Linked DNA regions of Homo sapiens: region 2 is linked to region 1. Evidence: fine-mapped expression QTL. A gene starts in region 1. The other region holds a variant in brackets. All regions are shown on one strand. Distances are from middle to middle. Region 1 holds the start of TESC (tescalcin). Region 2 overlaps TESC (tescalcin).

Region 1 (5,369 bases):
AGGTGGGGGTACTGAGGCTCAGAGAAGTAAGATGACTTGCCCAAGGTCATGTAGCTCAGAGAGGTGGGACCAAGACTCAACTCTCAGCTATGGCTCGGAGCGACCAGGACATACAAGAGTGTTTAAAGCATGGTCAATAACAAACCATGTACATGTGTTTGGTCTAACTACTTCATGTATATTAACTCAATCCTTCCCAACAACTTCAAGGGAGGTACTATGACTATGCCCATTTTATAGTAGATAAAACTGAGGCTCAGAGAGCATAAGTGACTTGCCCAAGGTACCTGGCAAGGCCCCTGAAGCCAGGCTCCTGCCACAGCCTGAGCCCTGACGACAGCTGTGTCCTCATCTCATGCATTCTTATTTACTGTTGCTGGCTTGTCCCTGCCACAGGGCCTCTGCATTCGACGTCCCCTCGGCCCGAGATGCCCTTTCCACTGATTTGCACACCCCTGGCTCATTCTTACTTGGATTTCTGTTCCATTATCACCTCCTCAGGGAGGACCTCCGGATCCACCCTAAAGCTCCATTCTCATGCCACCCTGCTATGCCTCGTTCACAGTTTAACACCTGTCGGGCGTTTTGTTTACTGTGTGTCCCCCTCCAGGAACAGCAGCCTCTCCGAGTCATCTCTAAATCCCCAGCCCCTGGTCTATAAATATTTGCTAAGTGGGCAAAAGTGACCGAATTACGCAGTCCCTTTCGGAGGACTGGGGGCAACTTTCCACCTACCTAAAGTTCCACCTGCCTACTCTAGTCTAACCTCAGAACCTCCTCTCCGACCCTCTCCATCTCCCTTGGGTTATGAAGTCTGAGCTCTGGGCAGCAAGAAGGGAAGCCGCTGCAGCTACATCTAGGAAGGTTACAGAGCAGGAACACAGCATCTGTCATCCCAGTGGGAGGCTGGACCCAGGAAACTGACAAGACTCCCAGCATGCTCTGCAGCCCCTCCTCCCTGTCAAACCCACAACCAGGTGGAATTCCCGAGTGCCCCGTGGGCTGCCGGAGAGCCCACCCTTCCAACGGGGATCCCAGCCACAGAGAATGCCCATCGACACCCATCCAGATTCAAAGCAGTGGGAGGCGAGGAGAGGGCACATGAGAAATAATAAAAGCAGAGGAGACCCAAGCAAGTAAGAGCTAGAGGAATCCCTCCTTTCTCTCTCATATTAGTCTTCGGATTGAAGTGCATAAAACTTTTTGAGTAAGTAAAATATCCAACATAGTTCAAAATGAACATATAAAAACGTTTACGGAGAAAAAGCTCACTCTCCCTTCATCCCTTCCACTCCCCCCGCAACCCCCACCAAGCATCCATTCGTACTTTCTGGTGGATTCTTCCAGTCTGCAAATATAGCAATTACAAATGTATACTCTTATTTTCCCCTCTTTTTACATTTTCTATTTCTTTTTACTTTGCGGCTCCAGCTCAAAGGATCCTTTTTTAAAAAACAGAAAAAAGGGTACCATATTATATATGCTGAGCCACACCTTTTACTTCTTTAGTTGGATATTTCTATATCTCTACACACACAGAGATACAGATATAGACGTATAAGTGCGTGCATACACACACCAGTTATTAATGGTTTTCTGCAATTTTCATCCAGTTCTCCTGGAAAGGGGTATTTAGATTGGGGGTCAAGAGGGGTTGCTTTTCAGCTGACACACAAACAGCTGGGCCACCCTCTCTTGGTGATCAATACTGGACGCTGGTTCTCTGCACTTGAAGCAGGTGCCAGGAGCTAGCTCTTTCCCAAAATATCTGCAGCTCCCATTTCCTGAGCGTCTACCAGGTACTAGGAGAACTCTTACAACAGAGAAGGAAAGCTGAGAATCAGAGAGGTAAAGTGACTAGCCCAAGGTCACACAGCCAGGAAGTGCAGCTGGCAGGGTTCACAGCCGGTCTGTCGCTCGCCAAAGCCGGTTTGCCCACACACCTGGCCCCCGCGGTCTCCAGTCCACACCCTGGTCCACAGCCAGAGGCAGAACTGGCCATGCCGAGTTCAGGACCCAGGGCCAAGTCCCCAGCCCGGCTGAACTCGGGCAGAGAAGCGCTTTCTCCGCCATTTCCCTGCGGGCAGCTCGGCCAGGCCTCCCAGGGCTCCCCGCCTCCGGGCCGATGCGGGGCGCGCAGCCTTTGCTGGTCCCGGGAGACTCAGCGAACTCAGGGGAGGACGCTGGGCTCCGGGCAAAGTGCTCTGCGGCCGCTGCCTCGCTAAGTCTCCCAGCCACCCGCGGGGATGAGGCTGCCTGAACCCATTTTACAGATGCGAGGACGAAAGCAGGCGCCGGGCGCCGGCTCTCCCGACTAAGGTCACCCGGCCGGGGAGCGTCGGAGACCTGTTCCCACCCAGGTCCGCCGACTTCAAAACTTTCCGCTCTCGCGCTCACGAATGCAAACGACTCTCAGGTGTGGGGCGCGCGCGCCAGCGGGGGTGCCTGAGGGACTTGCCCGCCCGGCCTGAGGCACCTGCCCTGCGCTTGGGAAGCCTGGGCCCCGCTCCCTCCCCGGTCCGCAGTCCCCCGGCCAGGGAGTTCCCGGGCCAGTCCGAAGCTGAGCGGCTGCGGCACTGAGCATCGCCGCGGAGCTCCTCGCCGCAGCCCGCGAGGTGGCCAGCGGGGACCCATTTGAAAGAGGAGGAGACTGAGGCGCAGAGAGGGCCCGCCACTGGCCCAAGGTCACACAGCGCGGCGGCGGGCCGGGGTCCCCAACAGTGGCCGTTCGGAGGTCCCGCCCCGGTCCCCGCGCCGCCCCCCGCGGGTACTCACAGCCGGTCTTGCCCTCGAGCTCCCGCACCTCCTCAGACGCGGAGTGGGCAGCGCCCATGGTGCCCGCGGCGGGGGCCCCGGGGCGCGCGTCCCTCTCAGGCCCCGCACTGGCTTCGGCTGCGCAGCGGCGGGACTGGCCTCGGGTCCGGCCTCGGGTCGGGACGCCGGCGAAGGCTCGGAGCCGCGGGTTCCGCGTGGGGCCGGAGCGGGGCCTCATATAACGGCGGAGGGCGGCGCGCCGCGGTCCTAGCGCACGCCGGTTTCGCGCACTGCGCGGCTAGGGGAGCGCCCCGCCCCGCCCCGGCCCGGAAACCGCCGGGAAGGGGACCCCGGAGCCCACCGCTCTGGAGTCCCCGTTCGTGCAGCAGTGCTCACGTACCTCGTCCCTTCCGCACACCTGCTGGATCTGGAAGGAAGCAGGTGTGAGCAAATTTGGGGGCGTGGGTAGGAGGGGTGGGACCCCTGGGAGGTGCTATGCCCACTCCCAACCCATCCCACCTTACATCCTCCAGATCTTAGGAGGGAAACTCCACTGAGATAGTCAAGGAAGTCAGCGAGCATGAAATAGCTCTATGGAGAACAACAGTAATAATAATCCTATTTGAAAATGCACCATGCGCTTTGGTTTTTTCCAGGAAAGCCCCAGCACCTTCTGAGGTGAACACACCCACGTGGCGGCCCGTGTGGGCCCTGCACAGCCCGGTGGCTGAGAGGCACCTCAAACTGCAGGAGCGGGCTGGGCGCATGGCTCACGCCTGTAATCCCAGCACTTTGGGAGGCCAAGGCGGGCGGATCACTTGAGCTCATGAGTTCGAGACCAGCCTGGCCAACATGGTGAAACCCCGTCTCTACTAAAAACACAAAAATTAGCCAGGCGCGGTGGCACATGCCTGTAATCCCAGCTACTCCGGAGGCTGAGGCAGGAGAATCACTTGCACCTGGGAGGCAGAGGTTGCAGTGAGCTGAGATCTTGCCACTGCACTCCAGCCTGGGCGACAGAGCAAGACTCTGTCTCAAAAAACAAACAAACAAAAAAACAACTGCAGAAGTGGGCCCAGGAGGCTGCATTTGGGACAAACTGCTGGAGAGAAGGCAATGCCGGTGGTCCCCATGCCCATTAGGGAAGTTCTGGGTTAAGATGGCTTGAGGGGTTGGCTCTCCATCCAGTTGGGGTGACTGGGGCCGATGCTGTTGCCTGTGTAATGTGATTCCTCCTCCTTAAAATAAGGATAAGTTAATGAGATGTCCACCAGAGGGCCTGGCGTGGACACAGCACATGGCCACAGAGGCTGGTGGGCGCTATGGAATCTTGTCCCCTGGAGAGGCACACAGCCAGGGCAGAACATCAAGGTCAAGGCTCTCCTGAAGGCTCTGCAGTGCTTAGTGACACCACCATCAATGACCGTCAGGTATCAGGTCTGTTCTGAACGTTAGTCTCGATGATAAATGTTGGGGAGGAAGGGGGACAGGGTAGGGGGCAGGAGTTTTTCGGTGCCCACAGAGGGGACTCGGGTGGACCTACCTCCATCAGTTTCACAGGCTGCTGGGAAGGGGGCTGCTGAGAACTGCTGTTCATTCCTGCAGACTACAGGCTCAAGCCAAGGGTCACAGCCCTTTCCAGGGGCAGGAGGTGACTTTCAGAGCCCGAGGTAGAGGGTGGGAGTTGGTCCTAAAACCTCCTAGAGCATCAGAATCAGCCCCTTCCTGGTTGCAAATCCAGCTTTTGGCCAGGTGCAGTGGCTCATGTCTGTAATCTCACCACTTTGGGAGGCTGAGACAGGAGGATTGAGCCCAGGAGTTTGAGACCAGCCTGGGCAACATAGCAAGACCCCAGCTCTACCAGCAATTAAAACTTTTTAAAAATGAGCTGGGCACAATGGTGTGCGTCTGAAGTCCCAGCTACTTGGGAGGATGAGGCAGAAGGATCGCTTGAGCTCAGGAGTTAGAGGCTGCAGTGAGCTCTGATTGCACCACTGCACTCCAGCCCAGGCAACAGAACGAGACCCTGTCTCTAAAATGGAAAATCCAGCTTCCTCTTCCACTGCCTGTCTGCACTCGTAGAGCTAAGGCAGCACCTGCAATCTGCATTTTAAAGCACTCTCCAGAGGGCAGTGCAAGACCTGATCAAGGTGGAAAGATGTTGGCTGTGGGTCATCAGCTGATCTGAGCCGGCAGGACAGCTGACCTAGGGACTGCATTTTGGTTTAAAGGATTCTGGAAACAGGCAGGCCTCTGGGATCAGGAAAGGATCCCCAATACCCCTGGGAGTTCTGAGCCGCTGAGCCAGCCCATTACGTACAGCTGCTGGGAGCAATTTTATTCCAACTTAAAATGTCAGTTCCTGGAATTTTATTATATTAAACTAGTCAAGGATTAAATGATGGAACTGTCTGATGTGGGGGATAGGAAGTGGCATTCTCTGGACATCAGCCCCTCCTGCTTGGCACAGTTGCTCTGGTGGGGACAAAAGCCCTGGGACAAGGAGAAGGGCACATGGCTTCACATTGTCCCTTGGTGATCTCAAGGAAGCCCCTGGTATCTAGTATGAAGGGAGTCTGTCCTACCCGATCACCTGTCTACCCTGACCCACTGAC
Region 2 (5,369 bases), 35 kb before region 1:
ACAGGGTTGCCGTACAGTTTAGAGGAGATAAAGTCTGCAACATGCTCAGCACGGTGTCTGGTGAACTGGGAGTGCACCACAGATGGCACCTTGCAGGATGGGGACCCTGTGATGTCCACAGCACCCCGTCCTCAGTGCCTTGCACTGCTGGGCTTGGCAAGGTGGTCAATAAATGGTTTGCTGAGCGAATAATGAAGCGAATAATGAAGATGGCTGCACGCAGGGCTTCCCTCTTTGTCTGGCCCATCCTGAGGCACTGCCCTTCCCCAGGTGCCTTCCCCAGGGCCCAGGTGTCCAGACCCTGGAAGGAGAGCAGACCCCAATGTCCCAGGAGAGAGGGAGGAGAGGTGGGGGAGAAACCACCTAGAAGAGCCTGACCCATGTGCCTGGAGAAGAAATTAACTCAACACAAGAGGCCTGTCCCCAACCAGCAGCAACAAGACATGCTTGACCTGCTAGGAATTGAGCTGGGGACACAGTGTCCCCAGGTGCTGGCTTCACAACCCCCAGTGGGTGTGTAAATGGCTCTGAAGCCCGCTGCCTCTGCTCTCTCTCTCTCTCTCCATAGGCACCTGCTACATCCACACCTGACTCTCACCTCCCCCTCACCACTGGTGCCTGACTCTTGGAGCCTCAGTTTCCTCATCTGTGAGATGGGTGCAGACCTAATCCTTCCCATATCAAAGGGGATGGTTCAGGGTCAAACACAAGGTGGGGAGAGGGGTGCTGGCCCAGGCTCTGCCCCTTACCAGGCACATGGTCTTGAGTAATCACAGCATGTCTTCAAGCCGTGATTTCTCATATGTAAAATGGGGATCATAGGAATATCCAGGTAACATGATGGGGCTAATGAGATGATCAAATGAGATAAATCCACATAAGATGCTGAGTAGGCTGCCTGACACAGGATGAGCTCTTAATTTTAAAATAATAACAGTAATAACGGCAGCAGCAGTAACAGTAATCGCTGCAGCAGTATTAATAGTAGTAATAATAATAATGTAACAGCAGCTAACCTACGTACCCTCAAAATGGAAGGAACTATTCTAAGAGCTTTACATTATTACATAGGGTTCACAACAACCCTATAAAGTAGGTACTTATGCCCATTTTATTTTCTTAATTTTTTTTTTTTGAGACGGAGTCTCACTCTGCCGCCCAGGCTGGAGCACAGTGGCGTGATCTCTGCTCACTGCAACCTCCACCTCCTGGGTTCAAGTGATTCTTGTACCTCAGCCACCCGAGTAGCTGGGATTACAGGTACCTGCCACCATGCCCAGCTAATTTTTGTATTTTTAGTAGAGATGGGGTTTCACCATGTTGGCCAGGCTGGTCTCGAACTCGTGACCTCAGGTGATCTGCCCTCCTCAGCCTCCCAAAGTGCTGGGATTACAGGTGTGAGCCACTGCACCCGGCCTGTGCCCATTTTAAAGATGAGGAAACTGAGGCAGAGAGATGAAGCCACTTCTCATTGTTAAGAATGATACTGGCGGACCCAGGCAGTGGCATGGTGGTTGGTGCCTGGCCTTCAGGGACTTTCCCTAAAACCTGCCAATGTCCCTTTTCAACAAGGAGAGCACCGGCCTTGAGTCCAGCGCTTAGGACAGGCTAACCTTTTCATTTCATCAGTTTCATGCTCCATCAATACTCGTGTCAGTTTTGTTTTCCTTCCTCCCTAGGTCCCCGCCGGGCTGGATGAACCGGCTTTTCTAAAGGTGTCGCAGCCCAGGCTGCAGCCATGGGAACAGGCTCTGCCTCACCTCAGAGCCCAGGGCTGACGGCAGGTCACTGCCCTCAGCCAGAGCTGATTCTCATGGCCAGTGGTGTTGCCCCAGTGACCATCAGGGGTAGCGGGGATTGCCCAGGAGGGCTCCAGGGCCACACACCTTCCAGGCCTCCTGCGGGAGAGCTTGAGCCCTCGGGGCTTCAGAATGTCCCCCTGGAGTCATGAAGGGCTCGCGTGACATCAAGCTGTGCTAAGCACTGCAACACTTAATCACCCCCACATAATCATGAGTGGCAACAATGATGATCCTATTTTACAGACCAGAACACAAGGCCCAGAGAGGCAAAGAGACTAAGCCCCAGTCACACAGCTAGAGTTGGCGCGGGACTCCAGCTCTGCCTCCAGGCTGGCTCGAACCATCTTGCGCTTCCTCACTCTCACCACTTCCTTCCTTCCAGTTG[C/T]GCATTTTTACGTTAAAGAGAGAAAGAGCGAGGCATCTGCTCTCACCCAGCCCCCAGCCCTCAGCCCAAGAGGCCCCATCTGGGACCCAGGAAGAGGGCAGGACAAGCGTCAGGCCAACAAGAAGGGAAGGACCAGGCTCAAAAAACCACCGAGGACTGTGCTGGGCTCTTCCTCAAGCCTCGTGGTGTGGGTTGGTTTCCGGTGGCTTTCGGAGCCCAGCTCAGTTGCAAAGTTCTCTCTAGGGGTACTGAGCATGGAGCTCCCCAACCCCCACCAACCACCACAAGGCTAACCGACCTCCAAGGTGAGGGTGCAGCCAGGCCCCAGATTCTCAGGCCGGAACTTCCACCGCTCCAGGGCTCCCTGCACTGAGGGAGGCCACTTTGCCGGGCTGCCTGCCCAATGTCCCTCTGAGTTCCCCTTCCTGCACTGCCTGCCCAGTGCCCCTCTGATTCCCCTTCCTGCACTCACTGTTCAGCATGTGGTGTCCCCCACAGTGGGGAAGCTGAGGCCCCATGGAGACTCTTCAAGGCAGAGACTGCATGTCACTCAGCACATGTCTTCCCAGTAGCCAAGATACTCAAAGTGTGGTTTCTGGGCCAGCAGCATCTGCATCACCTGGAGCTTATTAGAGATGCACCATCTCTCCCTACTCCAGACCTACTGAATCAAAACCTGCATTAATACAGTAGTGCATTCATGGCTCACTGCAGCCTTGAACTCCTGGGCTCAAGTGATCCTCCCTCCTCAGCCTCCTGAGCAGCTGGGACTACAGGTGTGTACCACCACACCCAATTTATTTTTGGTAAAGACAGGGTCTCACTATATTTCCCAAGCTAGTCCTGAACGCCTGGGCTCAAGTGATCCTCCCGCCTTGGCCTCCCAAAGTGCTGGCATTACAGAACCTGCATTTTAACGCAGTCCCCAGGGCATTCACGTACACATGAATGCGTGAGAACTGCTGGCCTCTTAATCTCTCAATGTTTCAAAGCACCTGGAATTGTGCAAATGTGCTAGGCAATTCTCCTATCCACATTTTTGCACAGAAGATTCTGGCAAGAAAGGCCTGGTCCTTTTTGCTCCTGGCAAATGCCTCTTTGAAAAGCTGGACAACGTCGCCAAGACCACTCCCCCAGGCAAACACCTTCTCATCCCTGTCCCTGCCCCATGTCAGTCCCCCACTTTCCCCAACACCTGGAATTGACTTCTTACAGTGAAAGCAACTCAGCGACAAGCATTCGAGCCCCTTCAAGGAGCCAGGCACTGTTCTAGGTGCCAGCTGCAGAGGTAAAGACAGACACGATCCCTTACGGGGAATCTAGGAGAGCACAAAAAAGATGGGAAATAGAGTATCTCAGGGAGTGATGAGTACTTTGCAGAGAAATTCAGCAGAGAAAGGGAGGGGACCACAGGAGACCGGTACAAGTTTAAATGAGGTTGACCACAGAAAGGCCACAGGGAAAAAAGTGACATTTGAGCAGAGACCTGAAGGAGGGGAGGTTCTCCACTCCCATGTGTCCAGCTGGTGGGGAGGGTGCTACCAGCATCTAGTGGGTGGAGGCCAGGGATGCTGCTCAGCACCCCACAGTGCCCAGGACAACCCCCAGTGAAGAATCATCCAGCCCCAGAGCCCAGGCTCAAAAACCCTGCTCTAGGGGAAAAGCATTCTAAGAAGAAGGAACAGCATGAGCTAGAGCCCTGGGGTGGGGAACAAAGAATGTTCATGTAACTTGGGCAAAAATAATTGGAGATGGGTGTGGCAGGGGCCCAACCGTGCAGGGGCCAGAAGGACACTGAGAGGCCTCAGCGGAGGCTCTGACTCCCAATGGGTGAGACAGAACATCTTCAGCAGAGAAGAGACAGTCTCATAGGACCCTCCCACATGGTACCGTGAGCCTGGATGGTGGATGGACAGTGAAGACAGACACAGGGGAACCAGGGAGGAGGCTGTTGGGGTAGCCCAGGCCAGAGACCATGGCAGCTGGATGAGGGCAGGGGCTGGGGGAGCAGAGGAAGAAGGGGAGAGAAGTAGCAAATCCTGGGCTCCTTGGGAGGTAGAAATGGCAGTGTTTGCTGATGAACTGGAAGCAGGGCTGAGACAAAGGGAGGAATCAAAGGTGACCACTGCAGGGAACTGTGAGGCTGCCGTTCACCACAGAGGAACGGGGGACCTCTGGGAGGGATGAGGAGGTGCTTGCTTTGAAAGGGGCATGTTAAGCGGCATGTCTTATTGGATATTAAGTGGATGGGCAGTTGCTACATGAGTCAGGAGCTCAGGGGAGAGGTCCTGGGAGGACATACAGATGTAGGAGCTGGCCGGGCACAGTGGCTCACACCTATAATTTCAGCACTTTGGGAGGCTGAGGTGAGAGGACTCCTTGAGCCCAGGAGTTCAAGACCAGCCTTGGCAACATGGCAAGACCCCATCTCTACAAAAAATACAAAAATTAGCCGGGTATGGTGGTACATGCCTGTAAGTTCTGGGAGGCTGAGGCAGGAGGATCGCTTGAGCCTGGGTGGTTGAGGCTGCAGTGAGCTGAGATCGAACCACCACACTTCAGCTTGGGCAACAGAGCAAAACAACAACAAAAAAGTAGGAGCTAACATACAGCTGGTGTTTCAGGCCACATCTGTGCATTTTATTTCAAGGACAAAAGGAAACCCAAGTCATCACTAGGGCAAAGGCAAACCCTCTGTGATCTGCACCCAACTCTCCAATTCTCCTCATGTGCTGGGCCTTCTGCCTAGAGCTCCCCTCCCTCTTCTCTTCACACACCGGCTCCTTCTCTCCTGGTCTCAGCCCAGATGTGGCCTCCTCAGTGGCACCTTCCATGACCACCTACCCCAAGGACCCTCTCCTCCCTAGGGTTCCAGGGGATGGCTGTCTGCCCTGTTTCCTTCCTTTAGCTTTTTTTTTTTTTTTTTTTTTTTTGGGGCAGGGCTTCACTCTATCGCCCAGGCTGGAGTACAGTGGTGCGATTTTGGCTCACTGCAGCCTTCACCTCCTGGGTTCAACAGATGTTCTTGCCTCAGCCTTCTGAGTAGCTGGGACTACAGGCACCCGCCACCATGAATGGCTAATTTTTTTTTTTTTTTTGAGACGGAGTCTCACTGTGTTGCCCAGGCTGGAGTGCAGTGGCGCTATCTTGGCTCACTGCAAGCTCCGCCTCCCGGGTTCACG

Evidence for each region.
Region 2: its variant is fine-mapped to the expression of TESC in blood mononuclear cells (TOPMed, PIP above 0.99).

What each region holds. Positions count from the first base shown.
Region 1 is chr12:117,096,450-117,101,818 of GRCh38, forward strand. TESC (tescalcin) reads right to left here and starts at 2,967. Exons shown (of 8, transcript NM_017899.4): 1 at 2,776-2,967. The coding sequence starts at 2,833. It overlaps TESC-AS1 (TESC antisense RNA 1), which reads left to right and starts at 3,018. Exons shown (of 3, transcript NR_120464.1): 1 at 3,018-3,195; 2 at 4,004-4,191. RefSeq lists silencers at 2,363-2,462, 2,533-2,642, 2,703-3,222, 2,961-3,099, 3,966-4,183.
Region 2 is chr12:117,061,105-117,066,473 of GRCh38, forward strand. All of the region lies in intron 2 of TESC (tescalcin), which reads right to left. Among named protein-coding and RNA genes, the nearest start is that of TESC, 36 kb to the right of the region's middle. RefSeq lists enhancers at 1,309-2,085, 2,086-2,862. The variant C/T (reference allele first, on the strand shown) is at 2,188.